Linked DNA regions of Homo sapiens: region 2 is linked to region 1. The links come from fine-mapping of genetic effects on gene expression. A gene starts in region 1. The other region holds a variant in brackets. All regions are shown on one strand. Distances are from middle to middle. Region 1 holds the start of MGLL (monoglyceride lipase). Region 2 overlaps MGLL (monoglyceride lipase).

What was found. PIP is the estimated chance that this variant, and not a neighbour inherited with it, causes the effect. A credible set is the group of variants that fine-mapping cannot tell apart.
Region 2: its variant is the best candidate, but not a certain one, in a credible set for the expression of MGLL in whole blood (INTERVAL, PIP 0.65).

The regions. Positions count from the first base shown.
Region 1 is chr3:127,820,232-127,825,754 of GRCh38, forward strand. It overlaps MGLL (monoglyceride lipase), which reads right to left and starts at 2,284. Exons shown (of 8, transcript NM_007283.7): 1 at 2,078-2,284; 2 at 1,463-1,607. The coding sequence starts at 2,087. RefSeq lists a silencer at 2,726-3,245.
Region 2 is chr3:127,708,683-127,713,682 of GRCh38, forward strand. MGLL (monoglyceride lipase) reads right to left here. Exons shown (of 8, transcript NM_007283.7): 6 at 1,894-1,983. Among named protein-coding and RNA genes, the nearest start is that of ABTB1, 38 kb to the left of the region's middle. The variant G/A (reference allele first, on the strand shown) is at 2,400.

The DNA.
Region 1 (5,523 bases):
GTTGAGTTATCATCTCTAACTAGAGCAAAAGCAACGGAGCAGAGAGGGCTCCCTGCAATGCAACTTCAGCACAGAGATTGTGAAAACCACCCGCAGGCGAAGGGAGGGCAGGGCAGCCAACTTGACCGTTTCTAACCCACTCACCCACCACCCTCCCCCTGTGCCAGGACTGCAGAACCTCTTTATTTTTGTTGACTTCGAACTAGGACAACCTCACTACTTAACCAACAAAGCCCCCCAAGTCTGAGACTCAGACATTAAAAACTTCTATTTTCAATTATTTGTCTTCTTTCTGTATATTGATCAAATTACCACAAACCACTAATCTGTTAGAAATTAATCCAAGATTGAGCAATTCTACAGCCAGTTAAGTCAGAGTGGAGAATTAATGATTAATTAGCATCATAATGCTCAACAACCCCCCCACTTCCTCTAATGCGTATGCACGTACAGACACATTCTTTAAGAAATGTATTACCAGAACTGGTAGGAACTCTTCTCAGCACGTTACCCACTTGAAAACACTAGAGAGAAACCATAGCCAGTCTGTGTAGCTGCCCTGAAGCTATGACTCTATGCCGGGTTTTAAAAGTCCATATCTCTGTGTTTTTAACGTGCAGCTCCCTGGATCATAGATACCTTGATGAAGACAGAGAAGAAATTTTACACCTGTGTGAGGGTTGGGTGATTACTGGAGCACAAAGAGAGACATAATCCAACCACACAATGATCCCTAGGAGACAAGAGGCCTACAAAACAGGTAAAATGTCCCTGGAACAGGAAATGTTCTTGTCACCAGGCCAATTGGTTACCACAAATAAATTCTTTTTCCAAATAACACAAACAAGCAGGGTTTTCCTGCTTCATCCAAGAGGAGGGAGCAGCAGCAGGAGACCAGCTGTCTTGTGTATAGTCCCAATGTTTGCTTCTAATAGCAAGACAAATCCTTGATGGAAAATGTACAAAGTAATTGAGCTGGCAAGGAATCAGAAGGAAATACCCAGGCCCCTTTCTTCCTGGTGACACATGTATGCCATCTTCAGAAGCTCAGAAACAAGCAGGAAAAGTGAGCAAAGGTGAAGATATATGTATTACTTCGGGTTTCTCATCCATCTAGGGGATTTTCCTTAATTGTCGGGTTTGATTTTAAATGAATGCCTGTACAACCGGAAATCAACTCCAGTACAAAAAATAAAGTCATGTGGAATTTTTGAAAATTGCCATACGGTAGGATCCATATCTGAGTTGTTATAATGAAAAAAGAATTCCTGCTTCTTAAATTTAAAAATTATAAAGTATACATTTTAGCTTTGTTAACATTGCTCAGCCTAACATTAAAACGGCAGGGGAAGTAGGTCATAGAGAAAGCGGCCCCGCCCCAGATGGCACATGATAACGACCAGAGGAGAAGCAGGGGCCATGCTCCCCTGTCACCTGGGGTGACTTTCTGGGGAAGACTTACTTGGGTGTGCCTGTGGGTTTCCAGTACCTGCAGAAGAGGTACTGTCCGTCTGCATTGACCAGGTGAGGGAGGTCCTGGTAGGGAATGCTCTGCGGGGTCCGCCTGGGGGAACTTTCCTCTGGCATGCTGGAAGGGTCTTCAGGTCCTAGAAGGAAAAGTGACATATTCCAAAGTCAGAAATATCTCAAGAACATGTATGGATAGGAGAGAAAAGTCTAGTTCAGAGTCAGTAACATTTTTTTAAAAGCAGTTTAAAAAACCCCTCTGTTTCAAAGGTTTAAAACATACATACATTTCTTGCAAACCTCTCCAAGACTGAAAAATCCCATTTGTTCTTAAGAAAATGCTCACTTTATTTTTTAAGTGCCTCATTACAGTTTTTCCCCCTTCCCATCTGTGTTTATTTTAAATCATTTCAGGAAACTTCATCTTAAAGACTATTTTAGCTGTAATCAAGTGGAAATTATAGTCAGCTCTATGGGTACAAAGACCCAGCTGCAAGAAGACCCATCTATCTTAAAATCTCCAAGGAACAGTTTCAAGTGGGCACAATAATGAGGTGGATGATACTCAGATTATTCCTCCCATCTGAAATTCCAAGGATACATGACAAACCTGTTTCCATTATGTGCTGGCGTTTGCATTCCACAACCACGACAGCCTGGAGAATCAGAACCAGGCAAATCGGGCTGTTCCCTCATCTGGGCGGCCCCAAGGCAGCAGGAAGGCAGCTCCGAGCCCTCTTCCCGCACCCAGACCCTGCCTTTCGGGCTGGGGCGCTCAGCCGGGAGCCTGCTTCCAGCTCCCACCGGCAGGCTCTCCGGGGCTCCCCTCCCTCCCCAGGGCGGGGAGCGGCGCTGCGATTCTCCACTACTAGTTCATGTCATCACTTTTCCTAAACAAATCGCTAGAGGGGCTCGGAGAAGGGAGGGGCCCGGGAAACTGGGAAACTAGCTCCGCGCACACCGAGGCACCTCGCAGACGCACAAATGCGGGTGCCCAAGGCAAAGTCGCCCCCAAGGCTTCTCACAAACTTTGCTTCCTGTGCGTCTCCGACAGCACAGGACACGTAGCCCCGAAGCTGTCATCGGAAATGCCGCTGGGAAAACCGGGTGGGCTTCGCCGGGTGTCTGCACCGGGGAAGGTGGGGACTAGAAAGATGGAGTTGATGGGGACAAGTTGGTTTGGGGGCTGGTGCGAAGGAGCAGGGAGGGCGCGCGCGCGCGCACACGCGCGCACACTCGGACACGCGCGCACACACACCGTGCACACACACACACGCACACATGGGTAGCGGGAGCCCACGCCGGGCGTGTCCGGGACCCCAGTGCTGCTCCCCACCCCTGACGGCGGCACTGGCGGGCTGGGGCAGGGGCCGGGAGGCAGTTACCGGGGCCACGAGCGCCGCTGTCGCGTTCCCCGAGCGCAGCGGATCCTCGTTTGCGGCGGGCCAGGGCCGGGACGAGCTGCGCGCGACCGGCTTCGCGGCGACAGGGTGCGGCGTCTGCGCCGCCACTTTATCCCTGGGCCGGCTCGGCGGCGGGGGCGGCCCGAGGTGGGTGGGGACGCGCGGGACCCGGCGGGCGGCGGGCGGCGCGGGGAGGCGGCGCCCGGGGCCCACGTGTGCCCGGCCCGCGGGGAGGAGCGGGGGCGCCGCCCGCCGACCCAGCCACGCACTCCTCTCCTCCGCGCCTCGTGGACAGCCGCGCCCCGGGGTGGCCGCCCGAGGACTGTCAGGGAGGCCTGAACTGAGCTGGGTTCATGGGAGCCTCAGCGCGGGAGGACACACCACACCCACGGGCACACGCGCGCACACAGACCCACAGGCACCACACGTACACAGACAACTCGCGCAGGGCCGCACACTCACCACACGTGTACACATGTGCACTCCCAAAGTCACTACACTGCACGCAGGGACATACAGACACACATCCCAGAGATACCACATGCATACAGACACACACAGACCACACATGCATGCACACACACAAGCCGAGACATAGGCACAGACAACCCACAGAGACACAGAGGTGCACAGACATATGCAGACTATACACCTGGCCCCCACATAGACACAGACACACTCACATCATACACACACAGTCGCACACAGACACACTCACACTTCATTGCAGTCAGACACATACAATGCTGGAGGGGCAATTAACCGGTCGTGGTGGCATGCGCCTGTAGTCCCAGCTACTCAGGAGAATCGCTTGAACCCGGGAGGCAGAGGTTGCAGTGAGCCGATACCACACCATTGCACTTCAGCCTGGGTGACAGAGTGAGACTCCATCTCGGGGAAAAAAAAATGCTGGAGGGGGTCCACTTGACTCTAGGGTAGTGTAAAAGCAGATGGTGCATGGCTACAAATGCCTTGTCCCTTCCTGGCAATCCCCAGCAACTCTCCCGTTCCCAGCGGCTGTGACCCCCAGATAAAACCTCTGGTGCATCTACACAGGCCAGGGCACAGTCTGAGCTCTGTCCAGTATAACTAGCAACGTGGCCGTGGAGGGTAAGGCCACTGGACTGAGACTCCACACCACCTGGGTTGAACATTAGCTCCTCCGCTTGCTCTTTGAGCCTCAGTCTACCTACCTTCAACCTGTGAGTGATATACCTATGCCCCAGTGGAGTGTCCCTGTCTCACACTGACCTCAAGAGGCCTTCCTGTCTTTCTCCGCAAAAAATTCTACACCATAGCAGCGTTGAGGACTGTGTCTCAGCGTCACACTGTGTGTGTCCAAGGAGGCCCAAGTTGCTACAGAGCCTGTGGTCTAACTTGAGAAATAAAACAACAGCCTTTGAGCAGTGGCTTGAGTTGTAGGCACTGCTGAGCGTGACTTACCCACTGTCTGGCCTCCAGCAGGCCACGAGGCCTGGAGCAGAGGAGTGGCTAAGTGACTTCTGGTCGGGGCAGCTCTACAGAATCCATGCAAGAGAGGTTTAGGGGCGGCAGTCTCAGGGGCAGGAAGCTTGGGGGCTTCACTCAAAGCTGGACATGCTAAGTGCACCGGATTTCCGTTGGTTATAATTCATGGAAAGGAAGGGTGCTCGGGGGTCTGATGGACGCTTTTATCAAGGCATTATTTCAAATGTTCCTGGCTCTAACATTTTATGATTTAAAATACACAGCTTGAAAATTTGGAGGAGAGGCCGGGCTCAGTGGCTCACGCCTGTAATCCCAGTCCTTTGGGAGGCCAGGCAGGTGGATCATCTGAGGTCAGGAGCTGGAGACCAGCCTGACCAACATGGTGAAACCCCATCTCTACTAAAAATACAAAAATTAGCTGGGCATGGTAGCGGGCACCTGTAATCCCAGCTACTCGGGAGGCTGAGGCAGGAGAATCGCTTGAACCCGGGAGACAGAGGTTGCAGTGATTGCACTCCAGCCTGAGCGACAGAGCAAGGCTCTGTCTCAAAAAAAAAAAAAAAAAAAAAAAGCTTTGAGGAGAGACTTCACTGAAGTTGTCAGAGGGATCTCAGTAGAAGTGACATTTGCAAACTTGAAGAGATCCCCCAAACTTGGTTATGGACAGAACTGAGACTGTGGTGTGTGGCCAGCCAACTGGGAATTTGGGAGTTAAGAGACAGATCGTATTGTTCTGTATCTGGCTTTTTCTTTTAATTAAACTTATTCTGAGATAATTGTAGATTCGCATGCAGTTGTAACAAATAATAAAGAGAGATGCTATGTGCCCTTTACTCAGTTTCCTGCAATGGCAACTTCTCACAAACCACAGTAAATATCACAACAGGATACTGACACTGATAGAATATCTGTAGTCAAGCTACAGAACGTCTCTACCCCACAAAGTGGTATGCTTTTATAGCCACATCCACTTCCCTCTCATCCTCACTCCCCTAGAACCCCTGGCAACTGCTAATTTGTTCTCCATTTCTAAAATTTTGTCATTTCAAGGATATTTTATGAATAGAATCATAAAGTACATAACCTCTAGGATTCACCTTTTCATTCAGCATAATTCCAGGTGGGTTGGGTGTAGCAGTCCACAGTATGGAAGTACCACAGTGTGTCTAACAGGTCATCTGCTGAA
Region 2 (5,000 bases), 110 kb before region 1:
TTTCTCAAACCTACTGTTGTCCTGGCACTGCCGCTACAAAGATCACTGGTTTTACCAGACACCACACCTTCAAGCTAGAGCCATTATGAGGGATGCAGGCAGGTGCAGGAGCCCCTGCCCCACACTGAGTTTCCCTGTCAAAGTGGGTCCCGTACAGAGAGCAATGGCCATGGCCATGGGCTGCGTGGACCAGCAATCAATTGTAAAACAGGAAACAGAGCTTAATGACCATAATTACTAGCTAGAGGGAGGCACCAAAGCATGGACTTTTGAATAAAATGGGCTAAAATCCCATCTCTGCCCCTGACTAGTTGTGCAATCTTGAACAGGTTATTTAACCTCTCCAAGCCTCAGTTTCTTCATCTGTGAAATGGGGTTAATGTCGATCTCATTCATGTCAGGATTAAATCAAACAGTGTATATTTGGCTTTGGTCTTTCTGGGTCCTAAAGTTGTGCTCTTTCACTGTATGAATCTGCTTTTTGGAATTAAAGTTTTTTTCCTTTATTCAGATATTCTTTCAGAAAGACCAGGGGCCACACACTGGTCCCTAATGGGTCCAACCTGGCCCCAAGATGTAGGTTTGGGAGGCACTGTGGGCTTTAAAAACCAAATTATATTAGAATTTTAAATTAATGTGGATGGGTTGGATGGATCAGATGCCCTCTGGCTCCACACAGGCCTCATGGCTTGCTAGAATCTCTCACCAGTCTGATTTTTAAGCAGCTGGCCCTCAGAGGCCTAGGAGTTTTCAACCCCTGATCTAGAAAGTCTCTTTCCTACACACCACGGGCTATTCCTCTTGAGTTGCCCACTCTCTAAGTGACTCAGAGGGCCAGAAGGCCACAGTTTATAATGAAGCTAGAGTCCAACAGCCCAAGGAAGTCTGGGAACATCCCCAGAATGCTAGAGCACTGCACTCCACTTCCCAGGGCCCTTTAGGGAGCCAGTGATTCAGTGATTTAGGGAGCCAGTGATTCAATGATTTCAAACTCCTAAAGCAAGAGGGCAACTGAGGCAGAAGAGTGGCAAACTTATTTGCTTAATCATGAAGATAATGCTGGTGTCTTCTGGATGCTTCCTACCCATTAACTGCAAGCCCACTCCCATACCCAGACAGAGCACAGCTGGAGACCACACCTACCCACGTTCCCAGGCTAGCCTCACCACTGGCTGACCCCAAGCAAGTCATCCCACGTTATGGGGCTCAGTTTGCTCATCTGCAATATGGGTCTGTCCTTCCTTTGCTACCACTATTCTGAGTTACCCCCAGGGATCCCCTTCCTCTACTCTCAGTGGGTGGGGATGATACTACCCCCCTTTCCTGGACAAATAATCCAGGCCTGGATAATCAGTCAGTAAGAATCAGCCCTGAGACTTTTGCTGGAAAGAGGTGCTGTTTTTCCACTGGGGTTGCTCAGGTAAACCTGCTGGTGGCCCTCTTGGCCTTCACTGGGGGAAAGCCTGTCTGGGAATGAAGCCAAACCAGGGGAGATGAAAGCTGGGAAGAGACCGATGGAGAATAAGACTTTCAACGCCCTGGATCCAGCCATGTCTGAAGCCTTCAGTTCCATTCACCACAAAATCCCTGCTTTTGCTTAAATCACTTTGATGTAGGTTTCTGTCTCTTGCAACCAAGAGACTTGACTGGCACACACTCAACTTCCACTGTTGGCTCCTTTCATGTTTAGAACACAGCTCAGGCATCATAGCCAACCCACCCTTTTCACCCAAACCTGAAGCCAACCATGTCTAATGCACCACTGTGTCCTTGTCACTTTGCACAGGGCCTCGGTGAAAGGGCAGCAGAGAATGCCAAGGCTGGAGCCAAAACTCTGATTCCCCATGGGGGCAGCCACCCAAGCTACCCCTGGGGTTTCGGAAAGCCTCTCACCTCTGTCTTATTCCGAGAGAGCACGCTGGAGTCGATGGGCCCGAGGGACAAGTTTGGCAGCACAAGGTTGAGCACTTTCGCAGCAAGGACCTAGCCGGGGAGGGAAAACAAGGGCTGTGAGCACAAGTGGCATCCACACCCGGCTCTTCCGCAGTGACAGTTTACAGTACATTAAGGAGAGTGATGCCCAAACTGAACATCAGCCAGGTTCGTCTCCCAAGCCTGCGTCCTTAAGCCTGCATGCCCAAGGACTCTCCCTTCTGACTCAGCCTCTATTCAGCCTGGCTCTGCTCCACCTTGGGGGAGCTGGCCAGGCAGCCGCTGCGCCCAAGGTGGGAAGTCACGTCTGAATTTTGCCCGCTCTATACCCTCCCCATGATCGCTCATGGGTTGTAATTTTGCATCACTGGCAAGAGTTGCCTGGGATGAGCTCTGGCCATTTCTCTGGGGTACTGAAAATACACGGCAGGTGCAGAATCACACAGATCAACTGAGCACGAAGCAGG[G/A]CAGTGCGGAAGGGCCCACAGGAGCCACACAGAGAAAGTGTGCGTCCATTTCTCTCGGGTGGAAGTAGAAATAGCACCAGCTCGATGAGGAGGCTGTGTGGCAGAGGGAAGGATTGCTGGGTTTGATTCCTAGCTCTGCTGCCTCGTGAACATGGGCTGGGATTTCCACATCGCTGAGCCTCCGTTTCCTCAGCTGCCAGTGGGACCTTGACCCTCCCCCAGAGGACCACGGGGAAGGTGAATAACACCCTGTGTGCAAAAGCCCAGGGAACACAGCAGGAGCTTAACACATGCTCATTGAACTTGAGCCTGATTGAGGCCCAAACCTTCCCACCCCCTCCCCCATCTCTCCTTCTGGATCTCTTGTTTTCCCAGGAAAACAGAGAACCCGGATCTCACACTTCTGCCTTCAGAGAGGGGCTGTTTTCATTTCTGCAATGTGCACAGACATTTGGGGATGAAAGATGCTATTTCAAAAGTGAGCTGTGAAATGCTGAAATTAGAATTGGACGGAAGGTGGCAAGCAGTGAATTCTCAGTGTACATCAAGGGCACAGGGCACGTAGCTCAGTACCCTTGGCAGAGGGCAAGGGCACTCACAGGCACCGAGGAACCACCTTCTGGTGCATTGGGCACAGTTTCCCTATCTTTTTTTTTTTTTTTTTGAGAGTCTTGCTCTGTCACCCAGGCTGGAGTGCAGTGGCGCAATCTCGGCTCACTGCAACCTCTGCCTCCTGGGTTCAAGTGATTCTCCTGCCTCAGCCTCCTGAGTAGCTGGGATTACAGGCGCGTGCCACCACGCCTGCCTAATTTTTGTATTTTTAGTAGAGACGGGGTTTCACCATGTTGGTTAGGCTGGTCTCAAACTCCTGACCTTGTGATCCGCCTGCCTCGGCCTCCCAAGGTGCTGGGATTATAGGCGTAAGCCACGGCGCCCGGCCAGTCTCCCTGTCTTTGCAAAAACCCTGGGAGATGAGGCTTCATCCTCACTGAACAGATGAGAAAATGGAGGCTCGGTACCATGAGGTCCATGGGAGGGGCCCCGGGCTGGGGGGCCGCTTTATCTTCTTATGCCACACAGCCTGGATTACTACGTCTCTGTCTCTGCCGCTGTCTGTGTCTCTCTCCACAAATGTAACCCAGAGCTCTAACCTTCCCGTGGGTCTTGGCACCAGCGGCCACTGATGTTCTTTTGGGGGACAAGATTGCTGTGCTTGCCCACCCTCCCTGTAGGCCAGGGCTAAACCTTCCTGTGTCCTAGGCCCGCACAAGTGTGGCGTGACTGCCCACCACGATTGTTTCTCAACCATCCAGTATCAGGCAGACAGCAAAAAACGGGCTTTTCTCCTAAAGGGCTTTGTTCCATGTGCATGAACCTATTCGGAGTTCCATGTGGTCAACACTCCTTTTCTCAAATGGTAGAAATCAGTAATTCCTTCTTAGTGCAAAGGTGGCAGCCCCCTGCCTCTGAGGATACCGAAGCTTACTGCCCTCCAGCCTTGGCATCCAGGCAAGCAGATCTCATTCTGCAGCCGCCACTGTGCCAGGTGCTTTGCTGAGCCCTGGGCTCCGACTTTGACTGTCTAGTATAGAAGCATGCGGCAGCCTGACTTTGAGCACTGTGCAGGGGCATGGTGTGTCTGCATAATCGGAAGCCTCGAAGGGTGGCCGTGATGGGTCAGGAATGTTCAAGAGTCCAGCTAGTATCATGGGCCAGCTCCAAGAACGAGCCTGGGAAAGGAAAACTTGGAATTCTGGGAACTCTGCACAAGGACTGGGGTATTTTCAAACACGGATCAAATGTCTGTGAACTCCAAGAATTGGGAGCTCGTCTGCATTGGGATCTGTGCTTTCAAAGGTTAAAACAATCTAAAAATGAGAAAATGGAGTGGATCAGTGCATAAAGGCAGTGGGCTGTGGCTCTGTGGCCTTCACTAGACTCTGGCTGTGTAAGGACGAGTGTTCCAGGGCCTTAGCGCTCTCCTCCAGCAGCAGTGGGCAAGGGCCACACTGTGAGGGAAGACTTCTGTGTTCCACAGTTATGAAGAACTCACTTCTAGATATTCTGCTGTTCTCAGTACCCTGTCACTACTCCCTGATGCTGGCAGTGTGTGTGTCCATGAAACACCACAAACACCTCCTCCCAGTGCTGCCCTGAGAGACTGATTGTATTGGCCGAAGTGGAGCCCTGGCATCAGTGCCTTTTTAAAGTTCCCTAGTGATCCTGTGTGCAGCCAGAGGAGACATGGGGCTGCCAGCTGTGGCGGGAGGATCCCCACCACACTCAGGAACCGCAGGAAGGCTCTGTGTAACGGGATGGTGTGCAAGTGCCAGCCTTGCAGGCGCTGCTCCCAGGTCAACCCACCTGCCTGCTGGGGCCCACACAGCCTTCTCAGGGACATGACTGTTTTATGTAAGCCAGCTTCCTACCCATTCCCTGACCAGATGGCTCAGAGCCAAGAAAAGGCCCAGGGACCCAGCACCTCAGCAGTGCCTGCCACAGAGGTGAAAGCAAGAGACCACCCAGCATCCACACCATTTCGTCCAAGCCCACCACCAGATTTCTCATTGTGCCACCATTTGTGTTTTGGGGACCCATCAC